Regions from separate parts of the Homo sapiens genome. Here all the other regions are linked to region 1. Evidence: fine-mapped expression QTL. A gene starts in region 1. Each other region holds a variant in brackets. All regions are shown on one strand. Distances are between the middles of the regions. Region 1 holds the start of ROGDI (rogdi atypical leucine zipper). Region 2 overlaps GLYR1 (glyoxylate reductase 1 homolog). Region 3 overlaps GLYR1 (glyoxylate reductase 1 homolog). Region 4 holds the start of LOC124903637 (a long non-coding RNA gene).

Region 1 (5,035 bases):
AACAGGGAGGTCAGGAAACAGGAAACCAGGCCCAAGAAGAGCCACAAAGAAGTGAAATGGAAAGAGGTGAAGAAAGGGGAAGGGGAAGAGGAAAGGCAGCCTCTGTGAGGCTCTGTGCGAACGGGGTGCATCTAGTGTCTACAAAGGGCAACAGATGGAGCCCAGGAGGGGGGCCTCCCCCCACGCCTTGGTGCCTGGCACAGAGTCGGGTGCAGACTGGAGTTCAGGCATTGGCTGATTCAACTGTGATGTGTGGCCAGCCTAATCCACCAATGCCCATGTTTCACTGGTCCGGACGCCAGGCCAGGCCGTGTGCAAAGAACCCCTCTCCTGCACCTCTTACTGAATCTGCACACCGATCCCGGGAGAAGGTGTGAGGGTTGCTGTCATTTTCCAAAGGAGAAAACTGAGGCCAGAGAGATCAAGGGTCCCGCCCAGAGTCGCAGGGCTTGTACAGAGAGAAAGTGGGAGCTCCCATGCTCTTCCCCATTGGCAGGATGGGAGGGGACAGGGCCGGGGGACTCACCGCCTGGCTGAGGGCATCCCCCTGCAGAGTCAGCACACCCTTCACCTGGTCTGTGCTGTAACATGTGGCGTCAGAGCGGTGCCTGTGGTCACCCCCCCACCACCCAGCCCTCCCTCCCGGCGGGCTGCCCCTCCTGTCCCATCGCACAACCAGCTGGTCTGCAGGACAGGGCTATGGCCATGCCTCCTACCCCCCAAGGTACCCATTTCCCCGGTTTCCGCCTAGCCCAGGCTCACCCACAGCTGCCTAGGATGAAGTTCTCTTGCTTGGCGGGCCCCTCAGTGCCGGAGCCCGGCAGAGTGAAGCGCAGAGAGGCCTCCTGTGGAACAGAGGGAAGGAGGGGAGCTGGTAGCGCCCACTCAGGCCCGGCCCAGTGCTCCTTCCAGAAGCCCCCCTCCCTCCAAGTCAGCGGGGGGAAGGAACAACGTGGCCTGGCCTCACCTGGGTTCAGCTGGGGTGGGAAGACCCTGCCCAAGCCCCCAGGGCACCTAACCGTGAGCCCGATCTCTGCTTATACCACATTCCCTGAACACCTCCTGTGTGCCCGCCTCGGGGAATACAAAACAGACAGGGGCAGCCTCCCAGCTTGGTTGAGGGGGAAAGGGGCAAGGGGCAGAGTCAGGGAACAAGGCAGTAGTTATGGTAACCCGCGGTCCTGGGCCACAGCAAGCACTACGCCGGTTACTTCTGTGAGCTGCCTGGCTCATTTATCTACACCCCAGCCTCGCGAAGCGGGTACTGTTATCTCCCTTTTGCCAATGAGAAAAGGGAGGCCCAGGGAGGTTCAGTGACTTGGCTGAAGTCACACTGCCAGGCAGAGGCAGAATTCTTCGGCTCCCAGATTGGATGCCGCTGCTCCCAAGGCGGCCTTCCCCGACCCGAGGCCGGGCGGGACTCAGGCCCTTGCTAGCACCCTCGTCGGGACCCGCCCCTGCCCGCACACAGGTACTTATATAATGAGGTCGGCTCGAGTTCGCGGAGGCGGGGCCCTGCCTGAAAGCCGCGGCAGCCGCACACTGTAGGCGCTCAGGACGCAGCCGCGCGGCCCCAGGTGGAGCCAGGGAAATGAGGAGGGAGGGCCGCCACGCCCGGCGGGGCAGGGCGCGGGTCGTTACCTTGAGGATGTCCTGCAGCTGCTTCAACACAGCGTGCACCTCGTCGTGCAGCAGCCAGCGGAACTCCTCCTCCTGCGGGACAGACCCGGCGGTCGCGCCCGGCCCCGCCGCCCCGCCGGCCCGCCCGCTGGCCCGCGCGCCTTACCAGCACCGCCCGCTCCGCCGCCGTCGCTGCCATCACGGTGGCCATGGCCGCAGGCCGCCGCCGAGCGCCCTCCCCACCGGCCGCTGCTCCTGTCCACCAATCTTTCTGTCCTCGGTCCTCCGGTCCTCCCGTCCGCCCCCGGCGTCTGGCTCCGCCCCCACCCGATTGGCGGAGCGGGTACCACCCCGCCCCCAGGCCGGCTCCGTGCTCGCGATTGGCTGGCGCCTGTCGGTCCGCCTCGGCCCCCGAAACCTGCGGGAGCCCTGGAACCAGACTGGCGGCTGCGGGAGTGAGGCTCGCTCCGCCTGGCCAGGGACGCGGCCGGCGGCTGCACGAGTCAGGCTTGCTCCGGCTGGCCAGGGACGCGGCCGGCACCAGCCTGGGGCGCCCGCTTGGGGGCGGAGCTCCCGGGGCGCCCCCAGGATATGATAGGGCGCTCTGCTCCACTCGCGCTCACTCATTGGCCGGCAGGACAGTCTGTCCCCGCTCCTCCTCCCTATTGGCCCGCTTGGCTCCATTGGTCGTGGTTCCAACCCTGCCGCGGACCTCGCCGCCACTCCCAAGTCCGTCTCACCCCGGACGCGGAGGTCCCGAAAACCCACCCCGGCCCCGCCGCTGCCTTCTCCTCCCACCCATCTCGCCGAGGACGAGGGAAGCAGGACTCCTGCGGCACAGCTGTGTTACCAAGAAGTGTTTTATTTTTCTTGCAGTAGCTTTGTTAATTGCACAAAATCATGTTTTGTTTTTGCCATTTAAACATTATCACACAATCCTATTCTGAAAGACAAATGTTCATTAAAAACAAAGCAAAAATAAAAATTCACAACCTTAATTACCTAGATTTGTCATTTAAAGGTTTAAAGAAAAAAGGGAGGGGCTTTCTTACAAGCTTTTTCACAAGTGTCACATTTTCTCCTTAAAAGGGAAGGATTTCAAAAGAAAGGTGAAATAGCTTAAACAGAAATATTCATAAAAAGGAACTTTACAGAATTGTCAACAATATTAAGACAAAATTGACTAACCGGTTTCATTACCGCATCTTCCCCCGCCCCCACCCCCAGTGTGTTCCGCCAGGACTAGAACAGGCTTTGTGTTCAGACAGAAATGCTTCAAAATCCCAGTGAAATGAACTGTGCTAAAAACCCGACAGGCATCTTCCCTGCCCTCCCCCCACTCGTCTTCTGCAATCCTCTAACCCAGTTTCTAATCTCTGAAAGGGGCCAAAGCTGTGAGGGGGGAAGGACCCCGCCCTAGTGTGGCCACCCTATATATAATTACATATTGCATCGTAAATGCTGGCCTTCCTTCTGCAAATTATGATTTTGGAAAATCCAACCCATGCAGAGGGATAAAAAACTGACATCCCTTGGGTAACTTTTTTTTTTGCAACATTCCAAGCCCCCCCCGGTCCCCTATCCAAGGACAAATGTAGGGCCTCTAGGATGTCCCAGACCCACCTCGGAGGGCCAGTCAGTTCAGGTAGGTCAGGCCCAGTTCTCTTCCCTCCCGACAGACCCCGGGCCCGGGAAGCACCGAAGACCATGATGCTGGCTGGAGTGAAGACACTCGTTTCCGTATCAAGAGCTGAGCCTAAGAAATGCTCATCGTTGGTCAGGCTGGGTCTGGGCCAAAGGGACAGACAGAAAGAAATACTGTCTCCACGGGAGGAAGAGGGAGAGGAGGGAGGATGGAGAGCGGTGGGCATGCAGGGGACTTGGCAGGGCAGGGTGGAGAAGGTGGGACCACTGGGAGGGGACCGAGGTAAGAGTGGCTCTTCAGAGCCAGGTGAAGAGTCTGTGGCCTAACGGAAACAGAAAGGAGCGCCCCCAACCCCCACTCCTCTTGGCTCATCACTAGTGGCCCTGAGGACTCCCTCCCAAGGGATGGAATGCAAATCCAAATACTAAAACAGCCTAGGGAGGAGCGAGCGCCCGCTGTGGCAGTGGCATCTGGGGCATGGCTTCGAGGCGGTGAGGGCCGGGCCTCCATGCTCACCTGCAGGCCGGCTGCTTGCTGCACTCCCTGGAAAGCCAGGGCCCCATCTTCTCGGGACTCTGCCAGTCTCTTTTCAGTTCACAAAGGCGTCTATGGAGCGCTGGGTGCACACTGGACGCTTAGACGTGAACATCTTTCTCAGCTCATCACCTGAGGTTGGAGGGCCCCAAGGGCCCCTCTGTCTGGAGTCTGTACTGGCTCATCTGGGCCCAAGGCCTCTCCTTGTAGGGAATCCAGTGGGGGATGGGGACATGACTACAGCCTCTTCGCTCTGGGGGAAGCTGTGGGAAGGCTTCCAACTCTCGTTGCTGATTCTAGTTCCTTGACTGGAAGGGGTTTGAGATAAGACAAGCTCGGAAGAAAAAAAGCCAGGCAGCAGTTTCTGGGCAGCTTCTATCCTGGGGCGAGAGCCTGTGTGTGTGTGTGTGTGTGTGTGTGTGTGTGTGTGTGAACACACAGCCACCTCGTCCGGGGGGCCAGTGCCCAGCTCAAGAGCTTTCCCACACGCCAATCCTGCTGACACTTGTCCCCTCCCCACCGGCCTCAGGGGAAGGGTGCTGCTGTGTGCTGTGCTGATGGCAAGTCTCAAAGTCTGTATAAAAGGAAATGGAGATAGGTGGGCTGGTCCAGAATGAACTCCCAGGCCCCCGACCCCATGTGAGGAAGAGGGGGTCAGAGGGGGGATTGGAGGGGTGAGGGCGGGGTGTCGACAGCTTAGTGTATGTAGGCTCGGTACACGGCGGACATATCGTTGTCAGACTGGTCCAGCGCCTTGGCTCTTTTGTACACCTGGAAAAAAAAGAGATGGCTCAGTCTCTGGCCCCAGAGCTGCCTTCAAGACCTAGACCTGATTCCTGGAGGCAGTGGTGGATGTGGCCAGCAGGCAGTGCTGGAGCCCAGGCTGTCCGGTTAGGAATCCTGTGTTGACCTTGCATGAAGCACCTCCGTTTCTCTGGACCTCAGCCACTGTGCTTCTTGCTCTGGGAGAAGGAACAGTACCCGGGGGATCTTGTGAGAATGAAATACACTATGGGATATAAAACATTCAGCATTGGCCGGGCACTGCGGCTCATGCCTGTAAGGCCGAGGTGGGTGGATCACCTGAAGTCAGGAGTTCGAGACCAGCCAGGCCAAAAAGGTGAAACCTCATCTCTACTAAAAATACAAAAATTAGGGCCAGGCGCAGTGGCTCATGCCTGTAATCCCAGCACTTTAGGAGGCCAAGGTGGGTGAATCACGAGGTCAGGAGATCAA
Region 2 (5,035 bases), 28 kb after region 1:
GATCTGGAATCGAACCTGCAGTATCTCCAACGTATGCTACACTACTCCCCAGATTAATAATTCAGACCCAAGGGCTGTCTGCAGTTTATTGGGAGCTCGTGAGACGAGTTCCTGTAAGCCTGGGCAGTGGCCTCTGGGGTTCTCACTGTACAAACGGCCAGTGTCTGCGAAACAAACCTAAAGAACTGATCAAATGCCTTGTACACAGGCACTGTTCTAAGTGCTGTGTCCATGTCACTCATTTAACTAACACAGTGAACCTAGGAGGCACGTACTGTTGTAATTCCTAACGATGAGACAAGGAAACTGGGGCAAAGGTGCTTTGCTAAGGTCCTATATACGTGATTCAAACTCCAGGCCCTCGTCATAACCTCTCCTTTGTACTTCCCTTTATCCAACGAGAAGGTATTTCTTTCCAGGGTGGCACAGGCACCGGTGAGATGCATGGCTTCACATACCAGACAATATCAATTTGGGAAATAGCATAAAATCTGACAGCCCAGATTCCTTTTGGATTCCAGGAAATAAACTCAGAAGTCACATTACATTTTTTGTGGGTCAATTTAGATCATGTTCCCTATAAAGTTCTCTCTGCACTGCAGCTGGCAGCTTTTCCAAACCTTGGGCTGACGGTATGCAGGGACAGCACTGCCACCCTTGCTCTCACCACTCCCTCAGCCTGAGGTCATCTAACAGTGAGAAGGGCTGTCTCTCACCAGAGGCCTCACACTGGCAGCCCACAGAGATGTTTCTATGGCCCCAAGACATATTTTTGAACTAAGCACATTTAAAATTGGGATATTTCACATAAAAACCTGTATTTCCAGCTTCTCTCTTTTTTTGGAGATAGGGTCTCACACTGTTGCCCAGGCTGGAGTGCAGTGGTGGAATTGTAGGTCACTACAGCCTTGACCTCCTGGGCTCAAGTGATCCTCCCACCCCAGCTTCCCAAGTAGGTGGGACTACAGGTGTGTACCACTATGCCCAACTAGTACTTTTTGTTTCTTTTTTTGTTGTTTTTTTTGAGACAGGGTCTCGCTGTGTCACCCAGACTAAAGTGCAGTGGCATAATCTTGGCTCACTGTAACCTCCACCTCCTGGGTTCAAGTGATCTTCTCATCTCAGCTTTCTGAGTAGGGGGGACTACAGGCACACACCACCAACCCCAGCTAATTTTTAATTCATTTATATTAAATTTTTTTTTTTCTTTGAGACGGAGTCTCACTCTGTCGCCCAGGCTGGAGTGCAGTGGCGCAATCTCGGCTCACTGCAACCTCTGCCTCCTGGGTTCACGTGATTCTCCTGCCTCATCCTCCCGAGTAGTTGGAATTACAGGAGCGTGCCACCACACTCGGGTAATTTTTGTATTTTTAGTAGAGACGGGGTTTCTCCATGTTGGTCAGGCTGGTCTCGAACTCCCGACCTGAGGTGAACCACCTGCCTCGGCCTCCCAAAGTGCTGGGATTACAGGTGTGAGCCACTGCACCCAGCAAAAAAAATTTTAATAGAGATGGGGTTTCCCTATGTTGCCCAGGCTGGTCTAGAACTCCTGGGCTCAGGGGATCCTCCTGCACTGGCCTCCCAAAGTGCTAGGATTACAGGTGTGAGCTACCATGCCTGGCCAATTTTTTAGTTTTTGTAGAGCTAGTCTTCAACTCCTAAGCTCAAGCAATCTGCTCACCTCAGCCTCCGAAAATGCTGGGATTACAGGCATAAGCCACTGCACCTGGCCAACTTTGTCTTTTTTTTTTTTTTTTTTTTAAGGGAAAGGCTCTTACTATGCTTCTCAGCCTGGTCTTGAACTCCTGGGCTCATGTGATCTTCCTGCCTCAGCCTCCCAAAGTGCTATGATTGCAGGTATGAGACACCACAACTGGCCTTCCCAGCTTCTCTTGAGAAAAAACAGACAATTTGGCAGAAGCTGGCTAGAACCCTGTGGACAGAGCATGACCTCCCCAGACTCCCTGACCATGGCCAGCCCTGCTGCTCTGAGCACCAAGGCAGGTCAGCTGGGGTGCCTGGCACCCGTGCCACTGCTTCTTAGGTCCAGTCAGCTACAGTTGCTTCCATTACCTGCCTGGGCTCGCTGGTGTCTGAATTTTTGAGCCTTGATCCAAGGTCTAATGTTCCATCATGGCCTCGTCACCCAACTGTTGCTGCCAGCCATCTGGCTTCTGTTCTCTTTATCCTGCTGTTGACAATCCTACCGCGTTCCTGACACAGTCCCCTTCACTTTGAAATTCTTCTCTGTGGCCTTGTAAGACCGGCCCCAAATCTTGTCAGCAAGAAGGCGAGAGAGGCACTCTCACTGCTTTATCTCATCTTGCTAGCTCCTCCTGCTCCTT[C/A]CTGCCCCAAGCACGGCATTCTTGTGGCAATGCAGGCCTCCGCGCTTCCCTCTTCTCCCTCTCTTCCTGAAACAAACCCATTCCACTGCCCGGACTCAACTACCCTTTTACAAATTCACCTCCCAAATCTACATTTCTAGTCCTGAGGTCACACCAAGCTCCCAGGCTGTCTAGGCCTTGCCTCAAGTTCTTGACATTCCAAACAGAACTGGTACTCTTTCTCCACAAGCCACCTCTACATCCCCAGTCCTCTACTTTTAAGAAAGTGATGACCACTTTCCCAGGAATGAAGATGGAAATCCTCTTTTCCTTTTTCTCATTCATCCTCTATATAACCAATTATGGAATCTTAAGAACTCTTCCTCTGAAGTGCCTCTCACCTCTTTGCTTGCAACATTTGCAATTACCCCCTTATGAATGCACGCCTAGACTTACCTCCTAATTGGCTCTGAGACTTTCCCCTCTGCACTCGGTGACTACTGGTGCACACACGGGAGGCACACACTGCCACTGGCTCAGTCACCTTCCCGGGCCCCCACTGACTCCAAGACGCTTTAGTACCACGCTGCTTCAGTAGACCTTCAGGCCCTCCACGATCCAGGGACAAGCTTCCTTTTTCTCGGCTTTCCTCACTATCCTCTCCCTGTTCGAGAGTATCTCCACCAGCACCGAGCCTCACACGGGCTGTGCCCTCCATCTTTGGAATGCCTACCCTTCTTTCTTGCTAAGCCCCTCCCAGGGCCAGCCCTTGTGCACCGGCTCAAGTGGACTGCTCTCCTGCCTCGCGCTCCTACTTTACACCTGCATCCAGGCCGTGTCTCTCACCTGGTCTATGGGATTCTTTATTTTTTAATTTTTTAAATAAGATTCGGGGTCTCACTCCATCACCCAGGCTAGAATGCAGTGGTGCAATCGGCTCAATGCAACTTTGAGCTCCAAGGCTCAAGCCATCTTCCTGACTCAGCCTCCTGAGTTGCTGGGATAAAGCATGAGCCACCGCACCTGCCCTGCAGGATTCTTGAGCACAGAATTCTGCTCCCACTCCATGAGCAGAGTATAGATAAGCATACTACATAAGCATACTGTAGAGCTTAACTCTACCTTGTACTAAAAGGACATCACTAATCCCGGAAGCTGCAGAGAGAAAACAAACCTTCTCATCCTTTGGGGGCCGACCCCGCTTCCGGGGACTTTGCTCTTGGGCTCTTTTCAGAGGGGATTTGGAGCCTCTCTCTGAAGAGCCTGAAGACACCCTCTTCTTTCCTTCTCCCATGTTCTTCTTCACCTTCCCTTCAGACAGGCTAAGTTTGCGCTTCTCATCACCTGAGTTTGGCCTACTTCTCTCCTCACTGGAATTACGTCGATTCTTGTCATCAGAAGAATTGTGGGATGACGTCTGAAAGTTTAATAATAATAATGATAACTACCACCACAGCTGCTGCCGCCATCGCCACCATCATTTACAGGTGCCATGTGCTGCTACAGGCACTCTGTGTGGTCTCCTCACAATGACCCTAGAAATAGATTCTGCTGTCGTCCCAGACATTGGGAGAAGCAGATTTAAAAAATATATATATCAAAAGTCACTTTCCCTATGTCCCAAAACTAGAAGAAAGGATTTAAATCTAGGCAGTATATGTATTTCAGAGGCTATGCTCCTAATCTGTGTGCTATGAAAGGAAGAAATGGCCTGTGCTAGACTCAAATGCTGAGATATTTCTCCTGGGTCCAAGCAATTTTCCTAAAAGCAACAACCTACTCCAGAAAGGTTAGCTGCATGGAGTTTCAAACTGATAAGCAAAACGCTGACACCTTAGAACTGAAGTAGCTTTCTCCAGTAGCATTTCAGAAGAACAAAGGTTTGCGTTTGGGTGACATTTAATCTGTTAGTTGCTATGCAAAAATCACCAGTCTGGCATTGGTAGAAAGTGAACATTGTGTCTCTCACCTGGTCTTTCCCTTTGGCTCTCCTGAGGAACTCTTCGACAGCATCTACCGCTTGCTGGAATCGTTTACCCTTGTTAATTTTTATCATTTCCTCTTTATGAGCATGATATGGCTTCAGCTGTTCCACTTTGATCCAGGCACTAGCAGAAAACAAACACAAAAAGGGTGTGAACCATATAGCATATGCCCTAAAGTATCAACAACCTCACTATGGCACGGTGTAAATATCCATTTGGTTTAACTGGACTTTGCAATAGGCCTTGCCATTTCTTTCAAAACATGCTATCAACCATCTCAGAGTCTTATGTCTAAAGTATATTTTCTTGAAACAAGTCAAGCAGAACAACCATCACCACCACTGCAGCAACCACAAATCAAGTTCCTCCAGTGAAAGCACTGTGTTGCAGATTATTTATTTCCACAATCGTCTATCAGCCTCCAATGCCCAACCACATATACGCTGCCACTTGCTCAGGGCAGAAAGAAATCTGGAGACCCTTTCCCATTCTCACCAGGCAGCACAAATGGCCACACACAGATCCCTGGGAATCAGGGTACCTGGAAATGTGATAGATGATAGCAGCATTACTATGCAGGAAAATGCCTGCTGCCTGTCAACAATGGGAACCAGATTTATGATCTGTTGATCCACAGAGAGTCAGGGATGTTACAGAGCTGAAGAAATGCAACATCTTCTAAAATTTGTGGTTCCTATGGATATTCACAGCCACTGAGCCTATATT
Region 3 (5,035 bases), 20 kb after region 1:
ATTCTTGGGCCCCACCCGGACATATTGACTGAGAAGCCACCTTCCAGGTGACTGTCAGGCACAGGAAAGTCTGAGAACCACTGAGCCAAGTGCTCCTTGCTCTTGAGTTCTGGAGCCAAAAAAATCCCTCAGCTTATGCCCAAGGGAGACCCGACCACAGATTTACACAGCTTTTGACTCCTGTCTTTATCGATAAGAGTTACAACATCCCCCCACCTTTTCCATTCAATGCCAGCAATGGCTGGGACACAACCCTTAAAGAACCCCCCTGGGGTCACCTTCTCCCCACCCTCAGCAGAACCAGAGCCACTGGAGGCCTTTTCATCAAAGGTCCTACTTTTTGTCTGTGGGTGTGATGCTGCCATTCACGGCTGTGCTGTCAGCTGCCTGGATGGAGGTGGAGCCAGTTTCCTACGGACAGGAAGCACACATCATCAAGTCAGTCTGCCTGCAGTTTAAGGCCCCAGGTGAAAATTAAAATGGGGAGGCATGGAGCCTACATACCTCTTCACATATTTTCAACTTCTTCGTGATTGCCTGGTAACAGACAGCTGGCTAATGAAGGAGGAGGAAAGAGACTACTTGTGCTACTGCAGGCTTAACCAGTCTTCATAATAATCCCCTCAAAGGTTAGACCCAAAGTGGGAAGTTAACATCAACTATTTGTTTTATACTTTAGTGAACTCCAAATTTTACACTAGAAAGTTCATACACATTACCTCATTCAAGTCCCCATGCAATTCTACCAGGTCTTTTTGCTGACCATGGTGTTGAGAATAAGAGTCATAAGCTTGGAACCCACATCTATCCAACTCCAAAGCCACAAACTCTCATGAGATCCTAGCACGGCTCAGGCCACCCCATAACCTTGCAGACCTTGGGAGGACCTCCCTCTGCATCCGCAGGACTTGGAGACTACCTCTTGGAGTGAGCTTGAAGATGTGTCTGCCATGCAATTTCATGGGGTGCTGACAGCTTACGATGTTTGGTTTCTGCCCTAAACTCTAAAGGTCACTGTGACAGTCTCAACTACACAGCTGGCTGAGTTTTAAATGCTCTTCTGAGATAGAGTCTCGCTCTGTCGCCCAGGCTGGAGTGCAGTGGCACCATCTCGGCTTGCTGCAACCTTTACCTCCTGGGTTCAAGCGATTCTACTGCCTCAGACTCCCAAGTAGCTGGGATTACAGGAATGCACCACCATGCCCAGCTAATTTTTGTATTTTCAGTAGAGATGGGGTTTCACCATGTTGGCCAGGCTGGTCTTGAACTCCTGACCTCAGGTGATCCACCCGCCTTGGCCTCCCAAAGTGCTGGGATTATAGGCATGAGCCACCATGCCCGGCCTTTGGGTTTATTTATCTTTTTTGAGACAGAGTCTTACGCTGTTGCCCAGTCTGGAGTGCAGCGACGCAATCTTGGCTCACTGCAACCTCTGCCTCCCGGGTTCAAGCAATTCTCCTGCCTCAGCCTCCTGAGTAGCTGGGATTACAGGCACGCGCCACCATGCCCAGCTAATTTTTCTATTTTTAGTAGAGATGAGGTTTCACCATGTTGGTCAGACTGGTCTTGAATCCCTAACCTCATGATCCACCTGCCTCAGCCTCCCAAAGTACTGGGATGACAGGTGTGAGCCACCGCGCCCGGCCTGGATTTACTTTTAATCTTAACAATGCTTGGCTCATTAGCGGGCCCATATGGGGGCTTCTGGGCTAGTTGCTCTGGGCAATACACCGGCAGAGCCTAACTTTTCAGATGGCCAGGCCAGGACCCAGTGGAGGAGCACTCCTTGGCCAGCCCCTGACCAAGGGCCAAGAGCCTCAAAGGCAACTCACCTTCTCTGTTTGGCTTAGCAGGAAATGATGGAAATGAGGATCTGCATCTTTAACAGGCTGAAACCAGAAAACAGTGAAATAAAACCAGTTATCT[G/C]CCACCAAAGGTCACTTCCTTCTCCCTGGTAACTGGACTCTCCTCTGGCTGCAACACCTCTGGATTCTGGTCTCTTTTTCACAATTGTCTGGAAACTCTTTTCCCATTTTGGCCTAAGCCTTTTTATAAAAACAAGCCCCATTCCAGCTAGAGGAAAACTGGCTTTAAAGTGTAAAAGAATAGATGATTCTGCTAGGTTGGTACACAAATTATTCCAATGAGCCTGTGGGAAAATATTAACAAGCATACCTGTGCTTTATAAATTCGGTACTCATCAGGCACAGCAGATAACCCAGCAAACTAAGTCACATCTATTCTGGAATTTCAGGGTTTTGGCCTACTTGTGTCTGGTACCAAGCCCTTGGCGATCTCATCTTACTGAGCATATTAACAGAAACAGAGTAGCCACGACAGTGGACCTTCATGGGCTTTCCATAATTATGCCCAGCAACAGGTGTAGCCGCACCAAGGATAATAAAACTAAACATAAAAGTTGTATTTATGGACAATAAGAGGGTGTTTATAAAATATTAGGGGAAAAAAACTTGTGGAATCATCCCACTTTTGTGAAAAAGAACCCTGCCCAAAATAAAAAAAACTAGACATAGGTCTATAATCATGTAAATGAATGCTAAGTGGGCATCCCAAAGGACTGAAATCCGTCACCTCGAGCCTCACAGTGCTCACCCTAGAGGGAAATTTTTAATTTTTTATTTCATAGACTTCTGTACTGTTTTGTAATAATAAATTAAGCCTCACACACAAGAAAGGGACAAAAAAAAAAAAAAAAAGGATCACACAGGAACCTCGCCCTAAGCCACAGCTTGTCCTGCCTGCAGGAGAGCTCCTTACCTCGCTTGCGGTTGGCTGCCATTTAAACGCGGCCATCGGTCCGGCCATCATCCCCTTCACGGTACTAGACTCCGGGATGGTGAGATCCTATAGAGGGAGGGGCAGGGCATTTTAAAATCACATTCAAACCCCAACAAAACCCCTTGCAAGCTCCACAGTCTAAGGGAAAGTTCAAGCCAATCCCCAACCACTGTTCTGATGACCGTCCCTCGGGAGAAACAAGCCAGTTCTTCCCATTAACACAAAGTGAGTCTTTCTTCTCAATTCTGGAAATAATAAAATGTGTACTTATGTCTAAATTTCACAAAGATGGAGGTAATTAGAAAGCCCAAGTACGATCTGCAGTACTGTCTGCAAAGTTTCAGAGTAAATGCCTTATGGTGAATACCAAACATTAAGAAACAGTTGTGGTGGCTGGGCGTGGTGGCTCATGTCTGTAATCCCAGCACTTTGGGAGGCCGAGGCAGGCAGATCATGAGGTCAAGAGATCGAGACCAGCCTGGCCAACACGGTGAAACCCCGTCTCTACTAAAAAATACAAAAATTAGCTGCACCTGTACTCCCAGCTACTCCAGAGGTTGAGGCAGAAGAATCGCTTGAACCGGGGAGGTGGAAGTTGCAGTGAGCCGAGATTGCACCACCGCACTCCAGCCTGGAGACAGAGCAAGACTCCATCTCAAAAAAAAAAAAAAAAAGAAAAAAAAGAAACAGTAGTGGCTTCAGAAGGAATCCGCCATATTTCAAAGAAACGAATAAAACCACATGGGGCTGATGAGATCTGCCCACATTTTACAGCTATCATGACAAAGGCAGAATTAAACTCCAGGGTGGCCAGAGCCCAAGAGCCTGAGTTCTCCTGAGACGGACACAGGAGGACATGGTGAGATGAGAAGCTCCTCTTCATCGATGGCCCGGCTCACCTTCTTCCTGGGCAAAGGGTCCTCTTTCCAGTTTTAACACTGGTCTGGTCCCTCTCGACTGCTCTGATGTTACCTTGCACTCCCTTTCCCCAGTCACTCCCTTCCAGCCACAGTGGCCCTCTTGACACCCCCTGCCTAAACTACTCCTGAGGTTTTCTCAGTCTTAGAAAACGCCTGCTCCATTCTACTAGGCCGATATCTTTAGAGCCCTTCTTGACCCCTCTCTTCTCTAATCCACTGACAATGAATGGGGCTTTACAGTTGGCGATCTGCCCAACCCCTTCTTCTCACCATCCCTGCTACTAATACCTAAGCTCAGGCCACCTGGACAATTGCAAAAATAAATCTCCCTGCTTCCACTCACAGTCTAGTCTCTACACAGCAGCCAGAGTCAGCTACCAAAAGGGCCAATCAGATTATGATGCTTCTTTGCCTTAAACTGCCTTCCAGTCTCACATAGTAAAGCTACGGGCTTCATGAGCATGGTCTACAGGGAGGGTCTTGCAAGTTCTGCCGTCTCCCACCCATCCCACGCCAATCTCCAACCTCAAGTCCTATTTCTTCCCCCGTCACTGCTCTCTAGCTCGTTAGCACCCTGCTGGCTTTCCCCCCCGCACCAAACACACCAAGCATGTGCCTGCCCTGGCACCCTTGTGCTACTTGGAACGTTCTTCTGACAGTTATCTCCTTGGCTCAGGCTCGCTTTGGGACTCTGCTGAAATGTCACCTTATCAGAGTGGCTTCACCTGACCTCTTTTTATGTTTGCCCATAGAACATGATGCTGATGTGGATTATAATGAGAACAAATGCCTTCATAGGGCTTACTATGTGCTAGACATCACAATAAGTCCTATTTTATACATACATTCTCATGTAATTCTTGCCCCTTCATGAAACAGAATTATTATCATCTTCTTTTTTTTTTTTTGAGACGGAGTCTTGCTCTGTAGCCCAGGCTGCAGTGCAGTGGCACAATCTTGGCTCACTGCAACCTCTGTCTCCTGGGTTCCAGCGATTCTCCTGCCTCAGCCTCCTGAGTAGCTGGGACCACAGGCGCGCGGCCACCATGCCCAGCTAATTTTTTGTATTTTTAGTAGAGACGGGGTTTCACCATGTTAGCCAGGATGGTCTCGATCTCCTGACCTCGTGATCCGCCCGCCTCGGCCTCCCAAAGTGCTGGGATTACAGGCGTGAGCCACTGCACCCAGCCCTATTATAATCTTCTTTTACAGAATAGAAAACTAAGGCACACAGAGCTTAAGTAACCTTGCTTAAGGTCACCGAGTCAGTCACTGGTGTGGTAGACACAACTTATTTATTTATTTGGAGGCATAGT
Region 4 (5,035 bases), 91 kb after region 1:
CAGGCAGTGTGGGAAGGGGGCCCGTGGCAACTGCGAGGTAAGCAGGCCGAGAAGGCAGCTGCTCCTCTGCCCACTGACTTGCCCTCTGAGCTGCAGCCCAGGATGCCAGCTCTGCTCAGCAAGAGATACTGGGAACATGGATTGTTATGTGCTTTATGCTTTTTTTTTTTTTTTTTTTTTTTTAAGAGATAGGGTCTTGCAACGTTGTCCAGGCGGCTGGACTTAAACTCCAAGGCTCAAGCAATCCTGCCCCAGCCTCCTGAATGGCTGGTGTTACAGGCATGTGCCACTACACTGGCTATTGCAGATATTTGATCTTAAAATGCTGGCACCCGAAATCCCGTAAGTCACACAGATCCCGTGAATAGCTTGGATTTGTGCTGTGGGCCTCCATTTGCAGTTCCCAATTTGGGCATTCCAAACCTGGGGAGACTGGATGCTGGTGTCCTCATCTATCCAGACGGGCGGGTGGATGTGCCAGATGCTCTCACCTGCTCAGAGAAGGACTCCCAGGACTTGGGCCCTAGACTCACCGCCAGCTCCTGCCCCTTGCTGTCCAGGACACGGCTGCTCTCAGGCACTGTGTCATCCTGATTCAGATGGTTCTCGTGTGTGGCCAGCAACTCCCAGCTCTGCTGCAGGCTCTTCTCCAGGCGGTTGGCCACATCAACCCTGAGAGCACCAATCAGGCGTCGGGGGATGCCCACCTGGCCCCCTGACCCCACCCCAACCTCCATGCTGCCTGTCTGCCACCCACTTCTCCTGGGCCAAGTCCAGCAGCTGCAGGAGGTGCTCGTATTTCCGGTTGGTGTCCTCCACCCGGGTCCTCAGCAGGGGTGTGGTGCCACTGCCTGGGAGGGCCTGGATGAAGGCTTCGCCCTCAGCCGTGCTCCGCGTCTTCTCAGGTTCAATCCGCAGTAGCTCGTTGGTGATGTTCTGTGGGAACCAGGGCCCCTCAGTTTTGGACACAGCCAGGCAGCCCCTTCCCCTGAGGATGTGCCCAGGGTGAGCACAGATTCCCACATCAGGCACAGTGGAAGCAGCTGGAGAGGCCTGGCACATTCTGGGGCTCTGACCCGGCATCTGGACCCCAGCCTGAGGGCTGTATTTTTCACGAGCATCCCAGGGAACCGCTGAGGTGGAATGGACTAGTGACACCAGAAGCACCCAGGCAGCTGCCGGGCCTGTGCTGTCCTCAGCACTGCACGCGGACGCTTCTGTTTAATCTTTGCGGCAACCCCGGGAGGTGAGTACTACGACTCCACCCAGTCACGGGTGGGGGTGTGACGACTCCCAGCAGCTTAGGAAGGGACTTGTGGGGTCAGGCTACACCCGAGACCGGCATCCTCTCGCCCTGACTTGGCTCTCACTCTGAGGCCCCATCAGGGGCTATGGCACTTCTCCAATCCCAGATCCTCTTCTGTAAAATTGGAGTGCTACTCACTGCCTCAGAGGGCTGCCTTGAGGATGTGGGAGACTTTGTATAGGAAAGGAGGTGGGGGGAGGTGGCCCCTCCACGTCCCCCCTGGCATCAGCTCACCCTGTCCTCGCCACTGCCCTGTGAGCAGGGCCAACCCATCCTACTGAAGACACTGAGGCCTGGAGTTTATAAATACAAACGCTAACGTGTTTGCAGTCAAGCCAGCCGGTGACCCAGTCCTGCGGAATTCCACAGCCCATGTGCCATGCCAGGCGTCAGATCGACAAGCCGTGCAGGAACAATGCAAGTCCTGCCAGCTCTTTCTCCTGGGGAGGTAATGACAGCAGCCCTGCCACCTCCATGACTTGGGACCCTTTTACATGCAGCAGGCTGTCCCTGACAGACAGCTGCAGTGAATATCCCAAGACTCCATGGGGAAAAGACCTCAAATAGGGGCCCCAGGGGGCCAGTGCAGGGCTCCCCCGGCCCCACCTGTGCTCCTGACCCGCAGGTACCTTGAGGTCCTTGGCCCGCTCGGCACTGTCCTGCACAGCCCGGCCTTGCTCCAGTGGTGGCCGCAGGATCCCTGTGATGGCCTTCTCCTGCCGGTCCAGGTCGCTGGCCACCTTGTCCAAGCCAGCCAGCAGCTGCCGCCCCTGTAGGTCAGAGGCATCTGTGGAGGGAGGGAGGACACAGGCAGGTGTGACAACGGGCCAGGGGTGTGAGGCCCAGGGATGGACCTAGGCAGCCAGCCCCCCGCCGTCTCATCCACAGCACAGACCCTGGTCCAGCCCCTCCTCCCCGGTACCCCCAGAGCCTCAGGCGAGTGGCCCTGGCACCCACCTCCGGGATTCTCGGTCTTCAGCACCTCATACCGCTGCTGCAGCGTGCGTTTGCTCCCAGCTGCCTTCTGCCGCACGCTCCGGTACTGGCTGCCCAGGCTGTGAGGACAGAAATGAGCTGGGAACCTGGGCAGCCCACCACCCCCTGCACCCACAGAGGCGGGACTGCGGACTCTGGCTGGGCAGACACCCCAGAGGAGCCTGACAGCTCCTTAGATGCGGACAGCAAGTGCTCACTGTGGCACTGGCCTTTCTGTGCTCCTGGGCTCAGAGCTCTTCTCCCTCCTTCCCTCCTCTTTCGTAGGAAGTCTCACTACCTAAAATTGTCTGTCCAATAATCACCACCAAGATGTTACTTCTGAGGGAGCATACACAGTAGGTGCTCAATAAATACTTAATAAATGAAGGCATTCCTTGAATGATCCACTCATTCAGCAAGGAGTTCCTGGGCACCTACTTTGTACCAGGTACTTAACTAGGCCCTGGAGAGAGGAAATTCAAGGAGCCCAGGCCCAATGAGACTGACGCATACGCTAGT[C/T]ACTTAATAAAAAGCGGTGCGTGCAGTGGAAGAAGGTGCCTGGGAGCAAAGAGGAGGCAGCCCTTATCCCAGCTGAGTCCTCCAGCCAAGGGGCTGGGGTCTGCAAGTACAGGGAGCAGTGCGTGCGGGAGTCAGGGGCCCTTAGAAACTGCTTAGAAACTCGTGAGGGGGCCAGGACGAAGCCCAGAGCTAGACATTCATGTTTAGCAAGTCAGCTGGCCCACAATCTGCCCCTCTCCTGCATGAACTTCCAAGGGGGTGCAGATGGAGAGTGTCAGCGACCCCGCGCTCCCCACAGGCTGAGTCCAAATCCCCGGGGCTATGAATGGGGCCTGAGAAGCCCTGGGGGTGGGACTGGTCCATGCAGACTCCCGCCTTTGCCCTTGTACCTGTCAGCCAGAGCCAGGGCCTCAGGGTCTGTGGGGGGGATCACAAAACACACGGCCGGAGCAATCAGCTTGTTCCCAGCGCTGTCCATGAGCTCCCAGCTCTCCCCGTTGTTCTTCTGCAGGGTGTAGCTGTAGCCCCGCGAGATCAGGCCCTGGCGGGGGCAGGCTGGACAGTCAGGATCCCGGCAGGGCCTGAGGGCCTGGGAGCCCGGTTGCCATCTCAGCCCCCGACTCTTGGACCTGGGGAGCCCCGGCTCATCACTTGGACCCTCCCCGTAGAGTGGGGAGGGGCATGCAGGAGAAGCACATGTGTTGAGGCTGCCGGCCCAGCAACCCACCTCCATTTCCCTTTGGGGAACCTTCCCTCCCAATTCCCAGTCCCTGTGGTCTCTCCTTCTCCATTCCCAAGCTCCAGATGGACATGTGACTTGGACCTGGCCAATGACTGGCATTCGCCAGCCACAGTCATTGGTATAGGGTGGACCCTGGCATTCCCTGGCCACAGTGATTGGTGTAGGATGGACACGTGACTCACAGTGAGCCAATGAGAACCTGGCCTGGGACTTCTGAGGAGGGACTGGGGTTGCTAAGCTGGTGGAACACAAGGCCAGGGCAGCCGAGGTGGGGGCGGCATAGGGGTGCCAGTTGGCCTGCACCAGGGGAAGGGTTGGCAGAGTGACACCAACCACGGAGACAGGCACAGGCTCCTGAGAACGGCGCCTGAGGCCCGGGATCCAACCATGTTACCCCAAAAACTTTGTAGTGATGTGAACAGAGGAGCTGGCCCCACGCACCTGCTCCCCCTCAAAGTCACAGAGTGCCTCCACGGGGATGGGCTTGAGCGGAGTCTCCCGGCGGTACTTGAGGGGCACCACCTGCTGGCCTCGCTTCTGCAGCCCCTGCACCACGTCCTCATACTTGTCCAGCACCTTCTCCTGGTCCTGGAGAGAACGGGGTCAGGGGCCCAGGTGAGACCAACAGCCTTCCCCCTGGTGGGAGGACGCAGAGCAGGGGCTGGATTCAGCAGGTGGGGTGCTGTGGAGGGGCCTGTACAGGGCTGAGGGCAGGCATGGTGTAGAGGGGTCCCCCGCCCCCCGGGCCAGCAGGGGTCCTGGGCCATCGCTCACATCCAGCTCCCGCAGCAGCAGCTCAATCTGGTACCGGTCCTTGAAGTCAGGGCCATACTTCTGGTTCAGGTCCGAGTCCACCTTGCGCAGCAGCTCCTGAGCGTCCTTCACGTCTTCGTGAAACTAGGGGAGAAGGTGGCTCTGTTACAGCCAGGAAACCACTAGAAGCACCTGGGCTTCTGTCGGAGGCTTCAAGCTCATCCCTCAGGCGGGGCTGGGCCTCCGGTTCACCTGGAGTCCAGCATGGGACCCTGTGCTGAGCCTGAGGCTCCTCTGCGTGGAGACAGCCCCACCCTCCCTGAGCTGGCTCCTTAGGGGCCTCACTGGGAAAAGCCAGGTCCCTTCCCACCCATCCATGAGATGCCACCTCTGTGACATGTTTTCTTGGATGTATCAGTAAGTCTTGAGGTGTCTTTGATTCAGTTCCTCTCTCTGTACTAGGAACATCCAGACTTAATACTATAGCTTCTTTCTAGGTTTTGATAATAGCCTCCCCTTTTTGTTCTCGAAAATTCTCTTGCCCATTCTTCAGTCTATCAACTCTTGGTTCACTGTCAGCTATCCCCTGGGCTGAGCACCTGGGCTGCAGCCATAAACAGGACCTGAAGCCCCCACTGTGCGGCTCAGACAGGGAATGAGGAGTGACACGGCGTCGCCCACATCCAGCTTTCCCCAGACACCTCAATCCTAAGAATTACCCGCAGCTTCTTAAGAACTCT

Evidence for each region. PIP is the estimated chance that this variant, and not a neighbour inherited with it, causes the effect. A credible set is the group of variants that fine-mapping cannot tell apart.
Region 2: its variant is the best candidate, but not a certain one, in a credible set for the expression of ROGDI in transverse colon (GTEx, PIP 0.87).
Region 3: its variant is the best candidate, but not a certain one, in a credible set for the expression of ROGDI in nucleus accumbens (GTEx, PIP 0.62).
Region 4: its variant is the best candidate, but not a certain one, in a credible set for the expression of ROGDI in whole blood (INTERVAL, PIP 0.60).

Annotation. Positions count from the first base shown.
Region 1 is chr16:4,800,741-4,805,775 of GRCh38, forward strand. It overlaps ROGDI (rogdi atypical leucine zipper), which reads right to left and starts at 1,893. Exons shown (of 11, transcript NM_024589.3): 1 at 1,787-1,893; 2 at 1,642-1,713; 3 at 763-845; 4 at 527-581. The coding sequence starts at 1,831. GLYR1 (glyoxylate reductase 1 homolog) reads right to left here. Exons shown (of 16, transcript NM_032569.4): 16 at 2,463-4,570. The coding sequence ends at 4,496. RefSeq lists enhancers at 1,401-1,901, 3,948-4,242 and silencers at 1,407-1,466, 1,507-2,296, 2,189-2,400.
Region 2 is chr16:4,828,481-4,833,515 of GRCh38, forward strand. It overlaps GLYR1 (glyoxylate reductase 1 homolog), which reads right to left. Exons shown (of 16, transcript NM_032569.4): 4 at 4,294-4,432; 5 at 3,499-3,741. Among named protein-coding and RNA genes, the nearest start is that of GLYR1, 16 kb to the right of the region's middle. The variant C/A (reference allele first, on the strand shown) is at 2,346.
Region 3 is chr16:4,821,043-4,826,077 of GRCh38, forward strand. GLYR1 (glyoxylate reductase 1 homolog) reads right to left here. Exons shown (of 16, transcript NM_032569.4): 6 at 2,779-2,865; 7 at 1,833-1,889; 8 at 505-555; 9 at 338-411. Among named protein-coding and RNA genes, the nearest start is that of ROGDI, 21 kb to the left of the region's middle. The variant G/C (reference allele first, on the strand shown) is at 1,927.
Region 4 is chr16:4,891,278-4,896,312 of GRCh38, forward strand. PPL (periplakin) reads right to left here. Exons shown (of 22, transcript NM_002705.5): 10 at 4,317-4,439; 11 at 3,984-4,130; 12 at 3,190-3,341; 13 at 2,264-2,361; 14 at 1,936-2,093; 15 at 758-936; 16 at 534-672. It overlaps LOC124903637 (a long non-coding RNA gene), which reads left to right and starts at 4,439. Exons shown (of 3, transcript XR_007064965.1): 1 at 4,439-5,035. RefSeq lists an enhancer at 3,981-4,826. The variant C/T (reference allele first, on the strand shown) is at 2,801.